Linked DNA regions of Homo sapiens: region 1 is linked to region 2. The links come from fine-mapping of genetic effects on gene expression. A gene starts in region 2. The other region holds a variant in brackets. All regions are shown on one strand. Distances are between the middles of the regions.

Region 1 (5,326 bases), 160 kb after region 2:
ACACACATACTTATATACACATATATATAGTGTGTATGTGTATATATATATACACACACATACATACATAAACCAAATTTTGTTTATCCATTCATTGATAATTGACACCTAGGTAGTATATATATAGTATAGTGTTACTATACTATTTGGTGAACATATATATGTAGTATTGTAATGGAATACTATTTAGCCTTAAAAAGGGGGAAATAACATGGATGAACCTGGAGCACATCATGCTAAGTAAAATAAGCTAGGAACAGAAAGACAAATACCGTATGATTTCACTTACATGTGGAATCTAAAAAAGTTGAAATCATAGAAATAGTGAGTAGAATGATGGTTACCAGTGGCTGGAAGAGGGGGATGGATGGAGAAAGGGAAGATGTTGATCAAAGGGTGTAAAGTTTCAGATAGACAGGAGGCATAAGCTTTAATGATCTGTTGTGCAGAATGGTGATTATAATGATATATATTTCAAAATTCCTATAAAATTAGATTTTAAATGTTTTGGTAGTAAAAATAAGTACCTGAGGTGATACATTTGTTAATTATGCTGATTTAATCATTTCATATTATAAAAATCAAAGCACCACATTATACCTCATAAATATATATAACTATTATTTGTCAATTAAAGAAAAGTGGGAGACAGCTAATGGGAACAGGGCTTGCTTTTGGGGTGAAAAAATATTTTGGAACTTGGTGGTTGTTGCATAATACTGTGAAGGTACTCAATGTCACTGAATTGTATTCTTTAAGATGGTTAACTTTGTATTGTGTGAATTTCACCTCAATCAATGAAAAAGATGGAAAAAATAAAATTAAAACGTAAGCAAAAGACTGGAAGAAAATATTGAAAATATGTATCTGATAAAGATTTGTATATAGACTGTACAAAAAACCTTTACACCTTGAAAATAATAAGACGAACAACCCAACCACAAAAGGTATTTGAATAGACACTTCACAAAAGAATATATAAAAATGGCTAATAAGCACATGGAAAGATGCTCAACATAATTTTTTATTAGCAAAATGAAAATTAAAACCACAATGAGATATCATTTCACGCCCAGTAGAATAGCTATAATAAAAAAGATAAACAATAAAAATGTCAATGACAGTGTGGAGAAATGGGAACTCTCATACATTGCTGGTGGGAATGTAAAATGATATAGCTACTTTGGAAAACGTTTTAGTAGTGCTGTTAAAAAATTAAACATAATTTAACGTATGACCCAGCAACTCTCTTAGGTGTCTAATATCCATGAGAAATGAAAATATAAATCCACACAAAGAATTGCACACAGATGTTATTAGCATGGTTTTCCATAATATTGAATACAACCAAATACTGGATATAGCCAAAAATTCAAAACAATCTAAATGTCTACCAACTGGTAAAAGTGCAATAGCCATACAATGGAATATTATTCGGCAGTTAAAAGGAAAAAAATTACTGAATGTGCAACAACATGAATGAATCTCAAAAATATGCTACGTGAAGAAATGCAGAAATAAGAGGTCGTGTATTATATTATTCTATTCATTTAAAATATCCAGAAAAGGCAAATCTGTAGAGTCAGAAAGCAGATTACCTGGCTTTGGGATATGGTGAAGGAGTTGATGGTGGGAATTAACAGTAAATAGACATGATAATTCTTTTAGGGGTGATTAAAAAGTTCTAAAACTATCTTATGGGAAAGTTGCACAATTTGGTAAATTTATTTAAAATATTGAATTGTACACTTAAAATGAGTGAATTGGTATATATAAAATATACCTCACTGTAGTTACTCCCGTCTCTTTGTGTGTGTGTGTGTGTGTGTGTGTGTGTGTGTGTAGCCATATACATATAAAAAGCTTGGTTGCATTTTGGACCAGAAAAATGAAAATAGAGGGGAATTTTGTATCCTAAAGCTTGTCTTATATTCTCCACTTTATTGTTATTCTTTATTAATTACATGGAGAAGCCATCTAAAACACTAGGTGTTTGATGCCTTTGCTTTTTCTCGTGCCTCTGCCTTCTTGAACATGATTAATATTTAATTTTCTTTTCAGATATACAACACTGTATTTGGCTGATGCTAACAGGAAAGTTCATTTATATCATAAATACTAAGTAAATTCTAAGATATTTGGGTTAAGTAAGGGCAAAATTAAAATGGTTGTCCATTTTAAAATGATGGTTATCCAATCAATTCAATGTGTTTTCTACATATAGATTCCTTTCTTATTGTAGAAAATAACATCCTAAAATATAATGGTGAAATAACACATGTAGTATGGGTATGATTTTATAACAGAAAATATCCAATTTTAATTGAAAAAAATTAAGTTGCCTAAAACTTAAATACTGTGGTTGGTATGGATTTATAAAGCACATAATATTAAATTTGATCAGAGAAACTTTTAATTGACAAGTGAGGAGTTGATATCTCAAAAGGGAAGGATATGTATTTTAAAGTTTCATTCTGGAAAAGGGCAGAAAGAAACTTAGGAAGGATAGAAATGAAGACATTAAAATTAATGTCTGACCTTTTAAAAAGTACAGCTGGCCATTCAAATAGACTGGTACTTCCTATGTTACCTTTCATACTGTAATCAAAATCTACAAGAACTGTTGGTAGGGATGACAGAGAAACAGAACAAATGAAAAATAATGACTTTAAGAGCAGATATCTGAAATGTGTAGTATTGCTTTGGCTAGAGAATAAAAAATGTACTGGATTTTTAAAACTCTGGACTGGAAATTTCATTAAAGCTTAAAATCTTTACTTCATTGTATTAAGAAGAATCAAAACTAACTAATCTCCTAATACAATTATATTTTCAGTTCAAGGCAGGGAAGATGTGTTCTAATAAAATATTTAATGACAATCTGCTATTGCCCAGCTACTCCATTCTTGTAAGCTAAGTGAATGTCTTATAAGTTAAATGAAATGTGTTATGCCTTTACTGTTTTATGTTTGGGTCACACACAGGGCTGAGGGGAACCAGTGAAACAGATCGGTGACATATTAACCTGAA[G/C]TTGTTCATGGCTGTGTATTCAAGAGAGCAAGGACAAATAATGGTCAAGGAAGGAAGTCAGGGATTGGTGGCTCTGTACTAAGTGTCAGCTTCAAAGGGAGAGACCAGAGCATAAACAGACAATTCTCTAGGTTGCAAATTGGGAGGATTAGGAACAAGTAAGAGAGATCCATGCAGGATGGACAAGAAAAAAAAGTTTTATACCAAAAATTGTATTTCATGGCATTAGGGCAGTCTACTGGGGTAAGGCACTATGCAGTACTAGGCAATTAGAATTCTATTCACTAGCTATGTGCACAAGCGGCTCCTGACCTGGTCATTTTGGCTGTAAAACTATTCATGGCAAGTATATATTATTTGCTTTTTATTGGAATGATTATTAGTCTGACTTGACTGTGTTGTAGATCACTGTATTGCTTTTGCACACAGCCTGCTTATCTAGAAAGCTGATATCTAGTAGCTGATATTTTTATGTAAGTACCTAAGGGACTTCTCAATATATGGTTCTTATACTATGCAACCTATTTCTATTTCAGCCTGGACAGTTTTTGACGGTGCAGTCTTGCTATATGGTGTGAGAAATGGCTGTAGGAAACAACACTCAACGAAGTTATTCCATCATCCCGTGTTTTATATTTGTTGAGGTATGTGTATTTTTTAACCTTTATGGACAAATTGAAATAAAAGTAACAGTTTTTATTCTGATAACTTAGATTATTTTATAAAATTAATTTTATGATTGGTAAGTCAATTTTGATAGCACAAATATTGGTAAAGATTAATAAACTATGCAAAGTGTTTCTTAAATAGGAAGTCATAGAGTAAGAATTTTTTAAACTTCACCTTTGGATATATAATATATCCAAATTAATATATCCAAGAAATATAATAAAATGAATATTGTGTTTTATTATATTTCTTCTATTTTCGACAATGATGTGAATGTTAACTATGAAAGAGAATGAAGCATTTTAATTAATTTTTTTATTAAAAAATCAATATCCTGTTTCAGGAAGTCAATAATCCATGCATTTTACAGATGATATTAGTTCATGGTCTTTTGCCTTGGAACCCAAATAAAGAAAAATAATCTTAGAGTTTACTATCTCCTCTGGACATTTTAGTAGAGTATTGGGAGCTTGTGCAATGTATGATTTCTTTTGTCCTGAATTACTTTGTTCAGTTGCTCCAACTTTGTACTAGCAGTTTTTCCAGCACCTTTTTGGTTAAATTTCCTGAACTCCTTTTGTACTCTACCTCTGTTTCTATGTTTGCTATAGAGGAGACAAAGACATGAATTTTTTAGGAAATTCGGAAAAAAACTGCTTTCTAGGTTATCTCAAAATAAGATGTTGATTTGCCAGAGATGTTATTGTATCTGCCTTATCAAGAAAATAGGGCGTCTAGTGGATCGGTTTTTTTTTAGCCTAAAGATCAGACCTAAAATATGACAGTGTAAAGAGCTGAAAAGTAAGTATCCTGAACTTCTGTCTGGGTAACTGAAGGATAGTCTCCACATCCCAGGGGTGAGCTGTAGCATATTCTTTCTTACGGCATCTTTTAGGCTGACTGTGGGAGAAATGTGTGTTGATCTACTTTATTATCCATATAAAAACAAAGTTGGGTTAAACTACTACTCATATTAGCAAAAATGTACTTTCAGTACATCTGTTGTTTATACAAATCCTGTGAAACACTTAGACAAGAACTTTTATGTTCTCCAACTTGAAATAACTTTACCTGCCTATATAGTCAGATAATTTTGAGCATTCTGATTTTTGATCAGATATATGGGTGTTTGGCTGATCATTGAGTTTCACCTTATAGACATTGCTTGGTACTTTTAGATGAACAAATATTTCATAACTTATTTTCTGGTGATATTTGATAATCTGTTCATATTGCAGAACCAGGTAAAGATAGGAGAGAAGGTTGGAACAGAGATGTTAATATAAGCGAAGTTACATATAGACTCAATTTAAGCTAAATATCTGAATGGGTAAACAAAGAACTCATCATTCAACAAGAAACACATATTCTTAATATTTTGCATTTAACTTGCTATACGATGCCAAAATAACTCCATTCAGACAATAGTGATAATTATACATATTGTGGGTTCTGGTTACGATTCTTCTTATTAATATTGTGGTGAAGGGAAAAAATCATTTTTCCTGCTGCTTATGCGAAAAAGTTAGAAGGTAAAATAACAGTACCTTTTTCAGTGTTTGCTTTCTCTTTTGTTATATGAAAAATAATTTTTTAAGTAGGCTGCGGGAAGTTAGGGAATAAGTCA
Region 2 (5,385 bases):
GAGTATTAAGTCTGAAATCTGTGATAAAGGAGCATTAAAAATACTGGCAGCCACTGAAATTCTTACCATTAATTTATCTCAAACCATCTGCAGATGTGTGCATATTAATTGGCTTTGGGCATTTTGTTACCTAGGAGGAGTAACACATATGATAGCTAAAATTAGAAGGCAGGCAAAAAAAAAAAAAAGTGAAAATACAAAGCTTGGTATTCCAATGTAGGTGGGGTGTTATAGCAAGAGACCCTGCCAGGCAGGAGTCCTTAATCACTGTGAGACATGAGTGGCAAAAAGTGCTTGAGGCATGTTACTGAAAGACAAAGCTATCTCACACTTACGTCTAGATTTGTGGGTGGAAGGGTGAGAGTTGGAGCTATTCCCCATTCACACTGCCACACATCTTTGTAGCATGCTTTTCATTACATGGATTTGAATACATCAGTGATCAGGGTGATGAGTGAGGGGGCGATGGAGGAAGCCAGAAGGAAAAACTGGAAGGCTTTTGGCTTTAATCTGCTTTGCTTGTTTAAGCTAAGGAAAAAAGAGCTTCTTAGCCTTTTTAAAAAAATAAACTATCACAATAATGAAAATATTAATAACCAAAATAAGAGCTACAGGTTATGCAGAGCTTGTTAGGCAGTAGGCACTATGTTAAGTGCTTTATGTACATCATCTCACTTAATGTCCCTGTGTTTTCCCTACTGTCCCCAAACAGTAAAAATCTCTTCCAGAACTGCTCATTCACCATCTCCTAGCAGACACACCATAAAGAGATTTCACTTTATTTGCAATTCTGCATTTAAAAATTCTCCTTCACCCTTCACCTTGTTGGAGCTACTTTCTGCTTTGAGATGGCGAACAGGTCCATCTGCTTAGAGATGGTCCCTAAGCATTGAGGGGAGTGGTATCCCTTTCCCTCTCACCCAAGGCCAGGCTCAGATAGAGTGGGCTTCTTGGCCAGGCAACCCTGGATACTTATCATTGTAGGAGGAAGTGCCTTAGAATTGTCTCCTATTGAGTGAACTGTAAACCCCAGCCCCTCTTAGTTCATGAATTCAAAGCCGTCACTCACCTTGTGCTTACGCACCAGGGCAAAGAGAATGGCTATCTTGCCTCAAGGAAGCAATTGGCCCTACCAATACTAACACCTTGCAATTCTAGTGAACACTGTTTACTGTTCTGAGGGGAACGTGACAACAAGGCAGATCTATCTTGGATGCCTTCCAAGAAGCCGAGCACCAAAGGGAAGTCCTGATATAAACAGGCATGGAAGGAGGAGCTCCAAATACCCTACATGGTTCACTATAGAGGCTTTGCTGCTCTTCAGGAGAACCTGATCTCCCCTACCTGGTGGATGGAGACTTACTCTCACTTGTCCTTTAAGCAAAGAGATGCTGCAATTCTACTTCTTTCAAGGATCTACTGAGAAAATAAACCTGCCACTACACCCAGGGCACTTTCTCTTTTTAAGAACTTTCCTTTTTTTCTCTCCTTCCTCTAAGTCTGTTCTCCTAAACTTTTGTTGGTGGTATTTAGACATGCTGTTTTTTTCTCCTCTGGGTGTGCTCTAGGATTTGATCTAATTGTCCTGCTGTTCGAGTGTCACTTGGCATTATTATTGGGAAGATGAATGGTATGTGGGTCAGAGTTCAGCAAGAAGGCATCTGCTCGCTTCCACTGTAAAGTGGAAATGCTTAGAGGTGATCTTTAATGAAAGCTTGGAAAAGATTTGCACAAGGCAGGCTGTCCTCTATTCCTCCAAAGCAGAGGGGACCAAAGGTTATCCTTTTCTGGAGGGACAGAAAATGAATAAAAAGGAGGTAGAAATCTCTTTACAGGGAGTTTCCTGCTTGGGATGTCTTTTCTTCTGTAGGAAAGAAAATGGGGTGTGGTGTGTGGGGAGACAGAACGATTAAACAGGGAAGAGATTGAAAATAGAAGCTCTTGAATGGATCCTAACCATTCTGTTTTGCTCACAGAACAATCTGATCCAAGAAGTTTCCACTCTACTTGCAACGACTCTCACCTGCCATCTCCCCTGGCCTCAGGTTACTGTGCCATAGCAGGCTCAGGTTCTCTTACTGGACTCTCTTCGAGTTGACAGTTCTCCCACTTTACCAAATAGCCAGAGGCCTCACAAAGACCTAGAATTGCGTTGGCATTCTAGGCAAGGGGACAATGAACCCATTGTTCTTTTTTTTTTTTTTTTTTGCCTTCTTAAATAGGGCAAATATCTCTTCCATTTACCCCTATCATCAAAGGAGGCTTAGTATGGGGTCCTCAGAGACTCACCTTCCTTCCACTCCTCCTTTGTTGTTTGGAAGAGTTATCGCTAGCCCCCTTCTCGCCCTCGCCCCATTAAAGCTGTTGTGGGACCCGACTGGACGTTGCCTTTTCTTGCTCTTAAAGGAGTGGAAGTTGGGAGGGGAAGAAAGAAGCACACACCAGGAAACTCATTTTAGTTCGGGGCGACCTGCAGCCTGTGGTTCCTCCTGGACCTCTGGGGAGACGCATCTCGGTTGCCCGCAGGGTAGAAAGCAAGAGAATGGCCCACAGGAACGCCCGCGCCAGCGCTAAAACCACACCGGGAGAGGACAGCCCCACGTTACCGAGGACTCGAGGCAGAAGCGGTCTCCAAGGATGGGTGGGGATCCCACCACTGGCTTCCAGCTCTGCATGCGCCGCGGAGTCCCCGCGCAGGGCGCACCTTTGCGGCGGGGTTTCCCCGCTGCCTTCTGGGAACCCCGCGGAGCGACTGCCGCTGGACGCAATCTGGCTGGCTTGCCTCTACCCCGAGCTCACTCTCTCTGCTCTGTCTGGGCTCTGGAGCCAGAGCTGAGTCTCTCTTGAGCATGCGCAGCCCGGCACCCTCCCCGCCTCTCCCCTCCTCCGCCCCCTCCGCGCCAGCCTTTTGCTCTTTCCTTTCATTAAACAAACAGGAGATCCTGAAACCTGGACCCTGTGCAAGCTGCAGCGCCAGGAGGAGGCAGCGGAGGAAGCAGAGCGCGGGATGGGCGCCCAGCGGCATCTGTGATCCCGCGCACCTCCGCCCCACGGGCGCGCGCACAAACACGGACACACACATACACACACTCGCGCACACACTCGCACAAACACACACTCGTACACGCCCGCGCCGCTCGCTCGCCGGCTTGCTCTCCCACGCAAGCGGAATGCAGCAGCGCCTGGAGAGCGTGTCTCGGACCGCCGCCTGAATGTACCTCGCTCCCGGGAGCCGGACGGCCCAGTAGGGCGCACTGGAGGACGCTCCGCTGCGGGAGGTGAGTGCGGCGCCCGCAGCCGGGCCGCTGGGGAAGTCTCTGCACCGGGGCAGTAGGGCAGCGCGGGGCAAGCTCCTGGCCGGACCCGGCGGCGCAGGTGTCCCATGCCTTGCTTGTGGGTGTCGAGGTGCAGATGAAGGCGGCGCTGGGGCTGTGCAGAGGAGAGGACGAACCCAGGGAGGGTCGCCTCCTGCGAGGTGTCAGATTGACCCAGCAGAAAGCTACCACCTCCCTGCTCATAAACTTTCCTTCCATGTCATCTGGGAAACGTGGAGACAAAGGGGGCGTGGAGGCTCCCTCCGTCCCGTTCCACCCTCCTGACTGCATTCCGGGCTGCAACGCGAGCCTGCACGCGTTGGGTGGGTGTGCAGGCGGAGGCGCCCTGCAGGTAGCTGATGCCAAGTCCTCCCACCCGGGCGGGGGTTGAGATTTCTCACCCCAAGCTGTAAGGGTTGCCATTGATTTTCCCTCAGGCATGGGCACCTGTCATCCTTCCCTTCCACCCCTCTGCGTCCTAGGCGCATAGTGGGGTGTGTGTGTCACCTGGAAAATTGGAGGGGCGGCCTTCGGCTTTCTCATCGAGCTCCGGTGCCAAAGGCGCCGGGGTGAGGCTCGGGTCAGTGCGGGGATAAATGATGAGTTACTGACAGGCTTGCCATAATCACCTCCTAGAACGGAGGACGCTAGGATCTCTCCTCCTCAGGGAAGGTGCTGTCTTCACGCACACCATCGCGGCAGCGCTGGGAGCTGAACAGGGGCTGCTGCTGCGGCGGCGGCAGTGGGAAGACGGGGCTTTATCCTCTCCCAACCCATTTCCCAAGGGTTTTATGACACGCACGTGTGGAATATGTGGAGGATTCTGGATTATTATTTTTCTTTGTGGGGATGTCGGGTTTTTTTCCTTTCAACCTCTTTCCTGGGAGAGATTCTGTGGTGTCTGCTATCTAGTTGGTGGACAGGCACGGTTCTGAATATCTCTTCGGCCCGACGGAAAAGGTCCTGAGAAAAGGATTTCCTAAAATCCTTTCTACTACTGGGGCGGGATCTCAGAGTGCAGTGCACCCGCTGCACCCGGGAAAAGCGTCAAATCGAATGGCCTTTTGAAACAGCAGAGACTGGGTCAGCCTGTGAGGAGTCCAGGACTGGGACAAAGGGAGATAGAAGAGGGACAAATAATGGTCACTTAGGAGAGGTGTGACTAGAGGTTAATGAAGGCAGGAAGAGGTTGACTGGAGGGGACGTACACTACAGCCTTCACTGAATTTCTATGCCCCTTCTGCTTGTATGGTTGGCAGCTCCTATTCTTCTGGTGGGACGCTAGTTTTGAGGTGTCTAGAATGTCACATCTGGAGCGTAAAAGACTTCACTATTTCTGGGATAACATTTAGCATACTTACAAATTAGTTGTTTAGGTCTAGAAAGTGCCTCGTGTGAAAGTTTCTCCATCTTGACGTGTTGGTTGTACCTGAAAGGCGGGTTGGGCAGACAGGTACATTTTTGGCTCTTGTGCACGTCAGGAGCCTTGTATTTTTAGGAAAAGTGTATGGGGAATCTGGAAGCCAAGCTGATGCTGAAAGAAGTAAACTCCGGAAGCTCAGATCCAGTACTTATGCCTGCTGCTCCTCACGGGTGGGGGTGAGGGCTTCTCTTCACTTTGAGATGACAGGTTGGGGAGTCTCTCTGCTGCTTGGGATGGGGACCTTTTTATCTTTAACATTTTGTGACTTCTTTGAAGTGGGAGAAAGCATGATATTTGTGAGATTAATTGAGAAATGACTTATGAAAGTGATCTTCACTCATAAGTAAGCATAGCCAAAGGTGAAAAGCTTTTTTAAGAAAGGAAAAAAAGAAGCAGGGGGTGGGGGGGAATTGGGAAAGGGATGCTTATTATTAAAATAGTTTCGCTTTTATGATTTTAAAGGTATTCAGTAAGATAGAAATCTGAGTGTTTTATTTTCAAATAACTAGGGAAGTAAAGACCTTTCCAGGAATATTTTCAAGTGAAATTGGCATAGAGGGGATTTAACTATAATTGTCAGCATATGTCCTTTTTATCCCATGGTGAACACTCTCATCATTTTCTTTGAAAACCTTGGCAAGAAAAGAT

The links. PIP is the estimated chance that this variant, and not a neighbour inherited with it, causes the effect. A credible set is the group of variants that fine-mapping cannot tell apart.
Region 1: its variant is the best candidate, but not a certain one, in a credible set for the expression of PLPPR1 in lung (TOPMed, PIP 0.63).

Annotation. Positions count from the first base shown.
Region 1 is chr9:101,181,884-101,187,209 of GRCh38, forward strand. It overlaps PLPPR1 (phospholipid phosphatase related 1), which reads left to right. Exons shown (of 8, transcript NM_207299.2): 2 at 3,567-3,674. The coding sequence starts at 3,612. Among named protein-coding and RNA genes, the nearest start is that of PLPPR1, 160 kb to the left of the region's middle. The variant G/C (reference allele first, on the strand shown) is at 3,031.
Region 2 is chr9:101,025,825-101,031,209 of GRCh38, forward strand. PLPPR1 (phospholipid phosphatase related 1) reads left to right here and starts at 2,903. Exons shown (of 8, transcript NM_207299.2): 1 at 2,903-3,278.